2 separate regions of the Homo sapiens genome follow, and region 1 is reported to be linked to region 2. Evidence: microRNA targets listed by miRTarBase, many of them from high-throughput screens and not tested one by one. Region 2 holds a microRNA gene; the other region holds the end of a gene's coding sequence.

Region 1 (4,397 bases), not on the chromosome of region 2:
AGTCAAATGATGTCTGGCGTTTGCATCAGTGTAATTTAGTAGGGAGGGACACTGGGAGAGTAGAAATAAAAGATTGGCCATTAATTATTTGTTAAAGATGGACAATGGGCACATGAGTTCATTATACTATTCTATGTATTTTTTGAAAATGTGGGCCAGGCGTGGTGGCTCATGCCTGTAATCCCAGCACTTTGGGAGGCCGAGGCGGGCGGATTATGAGGTCAGGAGATCGAGACCATCCTGGCTAACATGGTGAAACCCCGTCTATACTAAAAAAAGTACAAAAAATTAGCCGGGCATGGTGGCGGGCGCCTGTAGTCCCAGCTACGTGGGAGGCTGAGGCAGGAGAATGGCGTGAACCCGGGAGGCGGAGCTTGCAGTAAGCGGAGATGCACCACTGCACTCCAGCCTGGGTGACAGAGCGAGACTCCATCTCAAAAAAACAACAAACAAACAAACAAACAAACAACCGAAAATGTGAAAAAATTTTAAAGTTATTGAAGGAAATGCCACCTCCTCAGAGGCCTAAGAACTCTGCCTCCCTGGTAGTCATCTCTGGGTGTGGTAGTCATATGTCCCAGATTTTCCAAAATAGTTTAATTTTCAAATATTCATCCTTATTATTATCACCATAAGCTACTGAAATGTTCCAGAGATTGTCACACTAGATGTAGCAAATCCTAGTTTGGAAAAGTTAGTTATCATGCAATGAAGAAAACTATGGGGAAGCAAAAGCAGTGGTGTCTGTCTCGATAAGCTTCATACAACAGGTCAGAGAGACTTGCTTGCCCTTTTTGCTGTTATAAACACCCACATCTACCTTCTTGTCCTCTGCTGCAGACTCTCTACCAACAACGGAGGCATATGGGATTACCCAGTGGGAGAGAAGCATGGACCACTTCTAGATAGATCATCTTCAAGATCTGATCTATACATGCTGCTGAAGGATGGACTGTAGCTTCCAGTACGCATTAGGGGTGATGGCCCTGGAAAATGTATCCCTGCATTGTTTCCTAGTTTCACTCTGTACCTTATGCTCCCCCCATCTTTACCCTATTCACCCTTATCACCTCCCAGGACAGTGGTCAGGTCTTACAAAAGGCTAGTGCTTCAGGAAGATGTTTATATCTCTTCCAGAAGACACTGGTAGCTCCCCTCATTTCCTACAATTTGGAACAAAGGTCAAAAAAATAATTCTTGGCATCATGCTTGGTTGGGAGTTGGGAATGGGGATTGTGATGGATCATATACTCATCACTGTTTCATTTCTGGATTTCATTTTTAGCTTTGGATATACTGTCCCATTGCCAATGTTAACGAGCAATATCTCTGTTCTTTTCCTTATTATACTTTTTTATTTGTCTATTATTTCCTCTATGCTTAGTTACTATTAAATGTTAATTTTCCTTTCTATTGAAAACAACTGTTGGAGACACTGATTTTCAGCTTAGTATATAGATAGTAAAATAAAGACGATGCCCTTTTATTGCTACAATTCTATCACTTTTACAAGCTCTAGAATGGTGGAATGGGCGAACAACACTATCACTGAGATCAAACATGTATTCTACTTTGGGTTTTAAAAGGCAGAAATGACGAATTAAATAGGTTAGCCACTCACAAGCTGGCCTTAAGCAAAAATACTGGAAAAACAGAAAATAGCAGGCATCTGCCAGAAATAAATTAGGTCTTGGGAATGATCTTGTATCTGAACTAGGATCCCCATACCCTTTCTGGTACTCTGAATTTATTTTAAAGGCATTTCTAGATACCTTCTCTTTTAGGCAAGGGCCTGTCCTGTAGCAAATGGAGTTACCTCCAAGACTGTTGTATCTCTGTTACTCCTGAAGCCTCAGAAATTTTAGTCATTATCATTTGATGGCTGAGAAACAACCTGGCTGGCGATAGATGCTGAACTACTTCCTTTTTACAGTTTTTGTTCTTTTAATTTACCTCAATAAGTCCTGCCCCTCCAAACAATAAGTTAAAAGTATGCTGAGTTAGAATGTTAATGGATTTGGTTCCATTAATCCCTAAACCATAGGAGTGGCAAAGTGGTTGAGAGAGAAACAATTTTATTTTTGGCCTTTTTATTATTATTCTAGCATTTTAGGGCTTCCACTCTTTTATTTTTAGATGGTTAACTCATTGATGATACCTATTTGCCATATAGCTGATCCCAACTGATGAAAACCATTCTAAAACATCAATAATTAATTCACTTAAAGACGATGGTCCCTCTGTCCCTAAGACAGATCCTATCAAGAGAGGGAAAAGTCTCTTTTCTGGAAACAAATTGACAGCAAAAAGATGAAAAATTAGTCTCTGTCAAGCTGGACAGGAGGTAGTTAACAGGTTTGTAAAACCAAACCTGAAACCTACCTTCACTGCCCTTCAACAAGGAGAAACTATTCCCTCTCTTTCACCCCTTTGTAACACAATTCTACTGTTTAAAAGGACATCTTCCCTAATTACCACCTCCAATAAATATCCATTCTAAATTATTCTCCACCCAATTATTAAAGTTTTTTACAAGCTCGGTGGGGGAAGATTTTCCCTGAGACAAACAATGAACAGAGTGAGGATTTTGGAAAGATAGAAAAAGCTACAAGGCAAAGTGGTCACAGCATAAGAACTGAAAATAGCCGGGCACGGTGGCTCATGCCTATAATCCCAGCACTTTGGGAGGCCAAGGTGGGCGGATCATGAGGTCAGGAGATCAAGACCATCCTGGCTAACATGATGAAACCCGTCTCTACTAAAAATATAAAAAAGTAGCCGGGTGTGGTGGCAGGTGCCTGTAGTCCCAGCTACTCGGGAGGCTGAGGCAGGAGAATGGCATGAACCTGGGAGGCGGAGCTTGCAGTGAGCTGAGATTGCGCCATTGCACTACAGCCTGGGCGACAGAGCAAGACTCCACCTCAAAAAAAAAAAAAAGAACTGAAAAATTCTGCCACCTGTGATTTAGTCATGAAGCGGGTGAAACATAGTCAAGTTGGTATGAGGAAAAGGAAATATTAATATTTGTGATGAGACTGGGACTTATTGAGAATCTTGGTTGTCTAGGAAATGATCAGTTACTAAGAAAAAAGTAAGAGAGTCAGTTGCATTACGCACAGACTTGTGCTCAGAAAAGGGGTACAAGGCAGCCTTATATTCCAGGTAAGATGGTGGGATTGGGGATGCACTGGAATCATCAATCAAATCAGAATCCTTTACTCCTCCTTTCCAATCCTCCTGGAGAGGTGGTGCCAACATCTGGCCTCTGTATAGTACACCAAGGGAAAAAAACAGCAGACACGAGGAGAGCAAGAGCAGCTTCCCAGCCCATGGTTTCCCCAGATCCTTAGCACTCCCTACCCTAAGGTTAGAGGGTTGGATTTCTGCTGATCCAATCCCAGCCTTACTTAGTGCCCTATGGTCATTCTCCCTGGTCCACCCTCACTATATCCCCCTGCCACCCACCCTGAAGAACACAAAGCTTTTTAGTTCTCTGCCACAAGGTAATTTTAAAAATGTGGTTTCTTTGTTTAAACAGTTACTAAGTTGGTTCATCTTTCAGTAACAGACCTCCCCTCCCCCAGCTCCCCACTCAGTCTTGTATGATCACATCATCATCATCATCATCATCATCTTCCTCCTCCTCCTCCTCCTCTTCCTCATCATCTTCTGGCAGTTCTTCCTCCTCCTCTTCCTCTTCTTCATCTAGACAAACTACCACCTCAGCTGGCTGAGGTAATCGAGAGTCAAACCAATCCAGCACCTGCTGGGTGCTAAGCCTTGATGCCTGACTCAATTGAGGGATATCAGTTTCCCGTAGCTGTTGGTGGGCTGCCCAGTACCTCTCCAAGGGTTGTATATCCGGTGGGGGTGGAGGGATCGGCAGAGGTGGTGTCTCAGCCCTTTCGTTCAAGGAGCGGGTTGATGGTGGTGGTGTAGGAATTGCTGGGTCTTGGAAACTAGGGGCACCAGGTACTGCGTTGTCCCGAAACCACTTTAGTTGCCCATGCTTCAAGGCATAGCGTGTGTCACCAAACCACTGAATGATCTCAGGCCGAGGTAAACCAGTGATCTGTTCTAACTTTTGGTAATCCTCACGCCGTGCCCACTGGCACTGTAAAAAAAAGGATTTAAGGATAGCCAGCTGCTCTTTGGTTTTGCGCTTGGTCTTTCGCTGGCGTTGCATATCTGGGGAAAGGTACTCTGTGGGGCCAACTCTACCTGGTACTGAGTTATGCCGTAGCCCTTGGGGCCAGGCTGGTTCCAGATGTGGGGGTAATGCCTGTTCACTGGGTGACACTGACTGTGGGACACAGCCTAGTGGCTGGAGGGGTTTAGAGGCGGCAGTAGCTCCATTAGCCAGTACCTGGAAAGAAGAAGAGGTAGAGGAAGAAGAG
Region 2 (4,397 bases):
GTTACGAGGGAGCCCCTTCTAGGGTCCTCAAGATTTTTGTGAAAACAACTGGTTTTGTTGCATGCTACATTTATCACTGTGACTGAGATTCATCTTGTCTACAACAGTTTCTTATATTAGCCACAGCTAATATAAGACACATTTGACATCTTAGCAAGTAACTGGCATTTAGATGCAAGGTTTAAGCCCATTGGAATGGTACCTTGGAATCGTTACCCAAAGAAAATAGGATAAACATGGCAGCTACAGTCAAAGAACTCACTGGGGTTGGCATTAGTGGGTGAGGGTTGAATCAACTACACCCTTCCTGCAGAGAAAGCAGGTCTATTCCGAGAAATGATGGCAAGATGTTGGGGAAAAACAAATTTCAGTGTTACGGACAAGCAGATTACACTAAAAAGACACGAGTGAACAGGAACAAAAAGAAATTGTATCAATACGGACACCCACTGGGGATTACAGAATAGACTGGATGGACTTGGAGGATTACCCACTCTCTTAATGAAGGAACCATGGTTTGGATTGATTATACTAAATTGATGGGAGGCCATTGTATGACATGACCAACCCAAATGAAATCTGTGGGACCAGGTGCTATGTAATCTGTTTTTAAAGAAATGGGATCTTGCTATGTTGGCCCAGGCTGGAGTGCAGTGGCTATTCAAAGGTGGGATCTGTGCACGGTATAGCCTTAAAATCAAAGCACCCTCCCGCCCCGGCCCCTGCAGTAACTGGGACTGTGTGCCCCATGATGCCTGGCCAAGTCAACTATCTTTGAAATGGGTCATCAGGACAAGGTGGCTCACACCTGTAGGATCGCTTGAGCTCAGGAGTTGAGACCGTCCTGAGCAACAGAGACCCCATCTCTACCAAAAATTAAAAGCTGAACCAAGTGTTGTGTCACGCCCCATGTAATCCCAACTACTTGGGAGGCTGACTCAGGAAGACCACTTGAGGCCGGACACAGTGGCTCACGCCTGTAATACCAGCACTTTGGGAAGCCAGGGAGGCAAATCACTTGAAGTCAGGAGTTGAGAACAGCCCAGCAAACATGGTGTAACCCCATCTCTGCTAAAAATACAAAAATTAGCATGACATGGTGGTGGGCGCCTGTAATCCCAGCTACATGGGAGGCTGAGGTGGCAGAACTGCTGGAACCTGGGAGATGGAGGTTGCAGTGAGTGGAGATTGTCCTACTGCACTCCAGCCTGGGTCACAGAGCCAGATTCCATCTCTAAATGAATGAATGAATAAATAAATAAATAAATAAATAAATAAATAAATAAATAAATAGAGGGTCTCTTGGGCCCAGGAGAGCTAGGTTGGAACTGCCACTGCACTCCAGCCTGGGCAACAGAGACCCTGTCTTGGAGAAAAACAAAATCAGAACCCCAACATCATCCGAGTCTGATGATGAGCGTGCTCTGCAAATGTATTACCAAGATCAGCATCAACTTCAACGCTGCTTTACTCAAACCGAAACAGTCCAAAGGGAAGCACTTTCTTTTCTCTCAGACAACAGAAAGTACTTCCCTCTGGAGGGTCACAGCCTGAGATCTTCTTGCTCCAGCACTCTGGGTTTATTGTTGGAATTTTCCTTGACCAGGTTTAAATGGACACAAAAATAAAGATGCATTTTTCCTGGCCCTGTTTGCATGTTTTCTGGAATCCAGAATATAAACCCCCTAAAAGGACCATCTCCAGTTCCTTCTTTCAAAGGCTCAGCAGGTTAGCCTTGTTCATCAAGGGGCAATCCTCCTGAGTTTTGCCCCCAAAGAGAAAAAGCAATGCCTACTACTCATACCTTATCTTTAACCAAGAGAATCGAACTGAATTTCTAGAGAACAGCAATGGATTTTGAGCCAAGTGTTCACTTGAGTTCCAGTATAGGCACATGTAGTACCCATGGGGGCATCCAAAATGGAATCTAAGATGTTGAAGAATGTACATTGTCGCACACACAAACATCCTCCAGGAGAGACCACAGGCTACGCTGTAAAAGCTCCTCAATAAAAAAATACACAAGTACCTGTTGGGTGCGGTGGCTCACATCTCTAACCCCAGCACTTCAGGACGCCGAAGTGAGAGGATCACTTGAGCTCAAGAGTTCCAGACAAGCCTGGGCAACATGGTGAAGCTTCATCTGTACAAAAAATACAAAAGTGAGCCAGGTGTGGTGGTGCATACCTGTAGACACTAATTCAGGAGGCTGCGGTGGCAGGTGGAGGTTGCAGTGAGCCAACATTGCACCACTGCACTCCAGCCTCGGTGATATAGTCAGGCTGTGTCTTGTAAAAACTAGAAACACATACACACACACACACACACACACACACACACACAAAGACACACACTCAAAGTGATAGTCTCCTGCCTCACCCTCCGGAGTAGCTGAGACTACAGGCGTGCGCCACCAGCCCTGGCTAATTTTTTGTATTTTTAGCAGAGACATGGTTTCACCATGTTGGCCAGTCTGGTCTCGCCCTCCTGATCTCAGGTTATCCACCCGCCTCGGCCTCCCAAACTGCTGGGATTACAGGCGTGATCCACCGCACCTGGCCATACATCATATATTTTTGAGACCCTGTCTCAAAAGAAAGAAAGTTCCATATACTGTATGCTCACAGAAAGAATAATTCCTACACATAAGTCCTTGCTTTGGCAGCTCACACCCCCGTCTCTAAAATACAAAACCTAAATCAAGTGTGCGTTGATAACGTGGTCATACACCCTGTATTTCAGCTTCATTTACCCAATAAAAACTCAAAGCCCATGCACTCCACCTCTGTGCTCTTGCGAAGCAATGCACATCCCATCTGCAAGGGACACTGAGGTTCCCTTCAACTCTACCTCAAGTCAAGTCAAGGGAGGTTCTGTAAACCAGTGCAGGCATAACTTCCACGGAGTGAAAGGTGTTGAGGGCTGGACGAACAGGCATCACTCACTATGGCAACAAGAGCGGATGCGCATCCCACCTGTTACTAGGGAGGCCCTTCTAGGGTCCTCAAGGTTTTTGTGAAAGTATCTGTGGTTTTGTCCCATGTGACATTTATCACTGCAACTGAGATTCATCTTGTCTATAATAGCTTGTTTCTCATATTAGCCACAGCCAACATTTCACAGCTTACCAAGAAATTTGCATTTAAATGTGAGGTTTTGCAGGTTGGAATGGTACACTGGAAAAATTACCTGCAGAAAACAGGATAAACAGTGCAGCTGCAGTCACAGCACTCACTACGGTTGGCATGAGTGGGTGAGGGTTGAATCAACTACACCCTTCCTGCAGAAAAAGGTCTATTCCGAGAAATAAGTGGAAGCTGTTAAGCAAGAAAAATTTTCGATGTCAGGGACGAGCAGATTAAATTAAAAAGACAGGAATGGGCCGGGCACGGTGGCTTATATCTATAATCCCCAGCACTGTGGGAGGCCAAGGAGGCAGATCACTTGAGGTCAGGAGTTGAGACCAGCCCCGCAAACATGGTGAAACCCCGTCTGTGCCAAAAGTACAAAAACTGGCAGGTCATAGTGGTGAGCATTTGTAATCCCAGCTACTAGTGACACGGAGGTGGGAGAATTTCTGGAACCTGGGAGGCAGAGGATGCAATGAGTGGAGATCATCCCACTCTACTCCAGCCTGGGTGACAGAGCCAGGCTCCATCTCAAAAATGAATACATAAATAAATAAAAAGAGGATCACTTGAGCCCAAGAGAGCTAGGTTGGAAGTGCCACCGCACTCCAGCCTGGGCAACGGAGACCCTGTCTTAGAAAAACACAAAACCAAAACATAACCCCGCTATCATCCAAGTCTGATGATAAGCATGCTCTGCAAATGTATTACCAAGATCAGCATCAACTTCAACACTGCTTTTCTCAAACCGTAACCCTCAAAAGGGAAGCGCTTTCTCTTCTTTCTGACAACAGAAAGCGCTTTCCTTTGTAGACTCATAGCTTGAGATCTTCTTGCTCCAGCACTCTGGGTTTCGTGTTGGAATTTTCTTTGACCAGGTTTAAATGGACAGAAAAATAAAGATGCATTTAGTGGCCCTGTTTGCATGTTTTCTGGAATCCAGAATAAAACGCCTGAAAAGGACCATCTCCAGTTCCTTGCTTCAAAGGCTCAGCAGGTTAGCCTTGTTCATCAAGGGACAATCCTCCCGAGTTTTGTTCTCAAACAGAAAAAGCAATGCCTACTAGACATACCTTATACTTAACCAAGAGAATTGGACTGGATTTCCAGAGAACAGCAAATGGATTCTGAGCCAAGTGTTCATTTGAGTTCCAGTGCGGAGACACACAGTCCCATTGGAAACATCCAAAATGTGATCTAAGATGTTGAACTATATACATTGTCGCACACACAAACATCCTCCAGGATAGACCACAGGCTAGGTGGTAA

What was found. The annotated mature microRNA hsa-miR-520a-5p reads CUCCAGAGGGAAGUACUUUCU and lies in region 2 at 1,521-1,541, opposite strand. An mRNA with a match to its seed (bases 2 to 7 or 8) in the 3' UTR can be bound and repressed. Matches are read on the target gene's strand: a 7mer-m8 pairs with bases 2 to 8, a 7mer-A1 pairs with bases 2 to 7 and ends in A, and an 8mer does both.
Region 1: miRTarBase lists HOMEZ as a target of hsa-miR-520a-5p. Seed matches in the 3' UTR shown: 7mer-A1 at 1,132-1,138 and 8mer at 648-655.

Annotation. Positions count from the first base shown.
Region 1 is chr14:23,271,983-23,276,379 of GRCh38, forward strand. It overlaps HOMEZ (homeobox and leucine zipper encoding), which reads right to left. Exons shown (of 2, transcript NM_020834.3): 2 at 440-4,397. The coding sequence ends at 3,593. It overlaps RNF212B (ring finger protein 212B), which reads left to right. Exons shown (of 15, transcript NM_001282322.3): 15 at 841-1,495. The coding sequence ends at 909. Among named protein-coding and RNA genes, the nearest start is that of HOMEZ, 12 kb to the right of the region's middle.
Region 2 is chr19:53,688,039-53,692,435 of GRCh38, reverse strand. It overlaps MIR520A (microRNA 520a), which reads right to left and starts at 1,555; the gene lies at 1,471-1,555. It overlaps MIR1283-1 (microRNA 1283-1), which reads right to left and starts at 3,955; the gene lies at 3,869-3,955. The region is part of intron 2 of LOC107985342 (a long non-coding RNA gene); the gene reads right to left.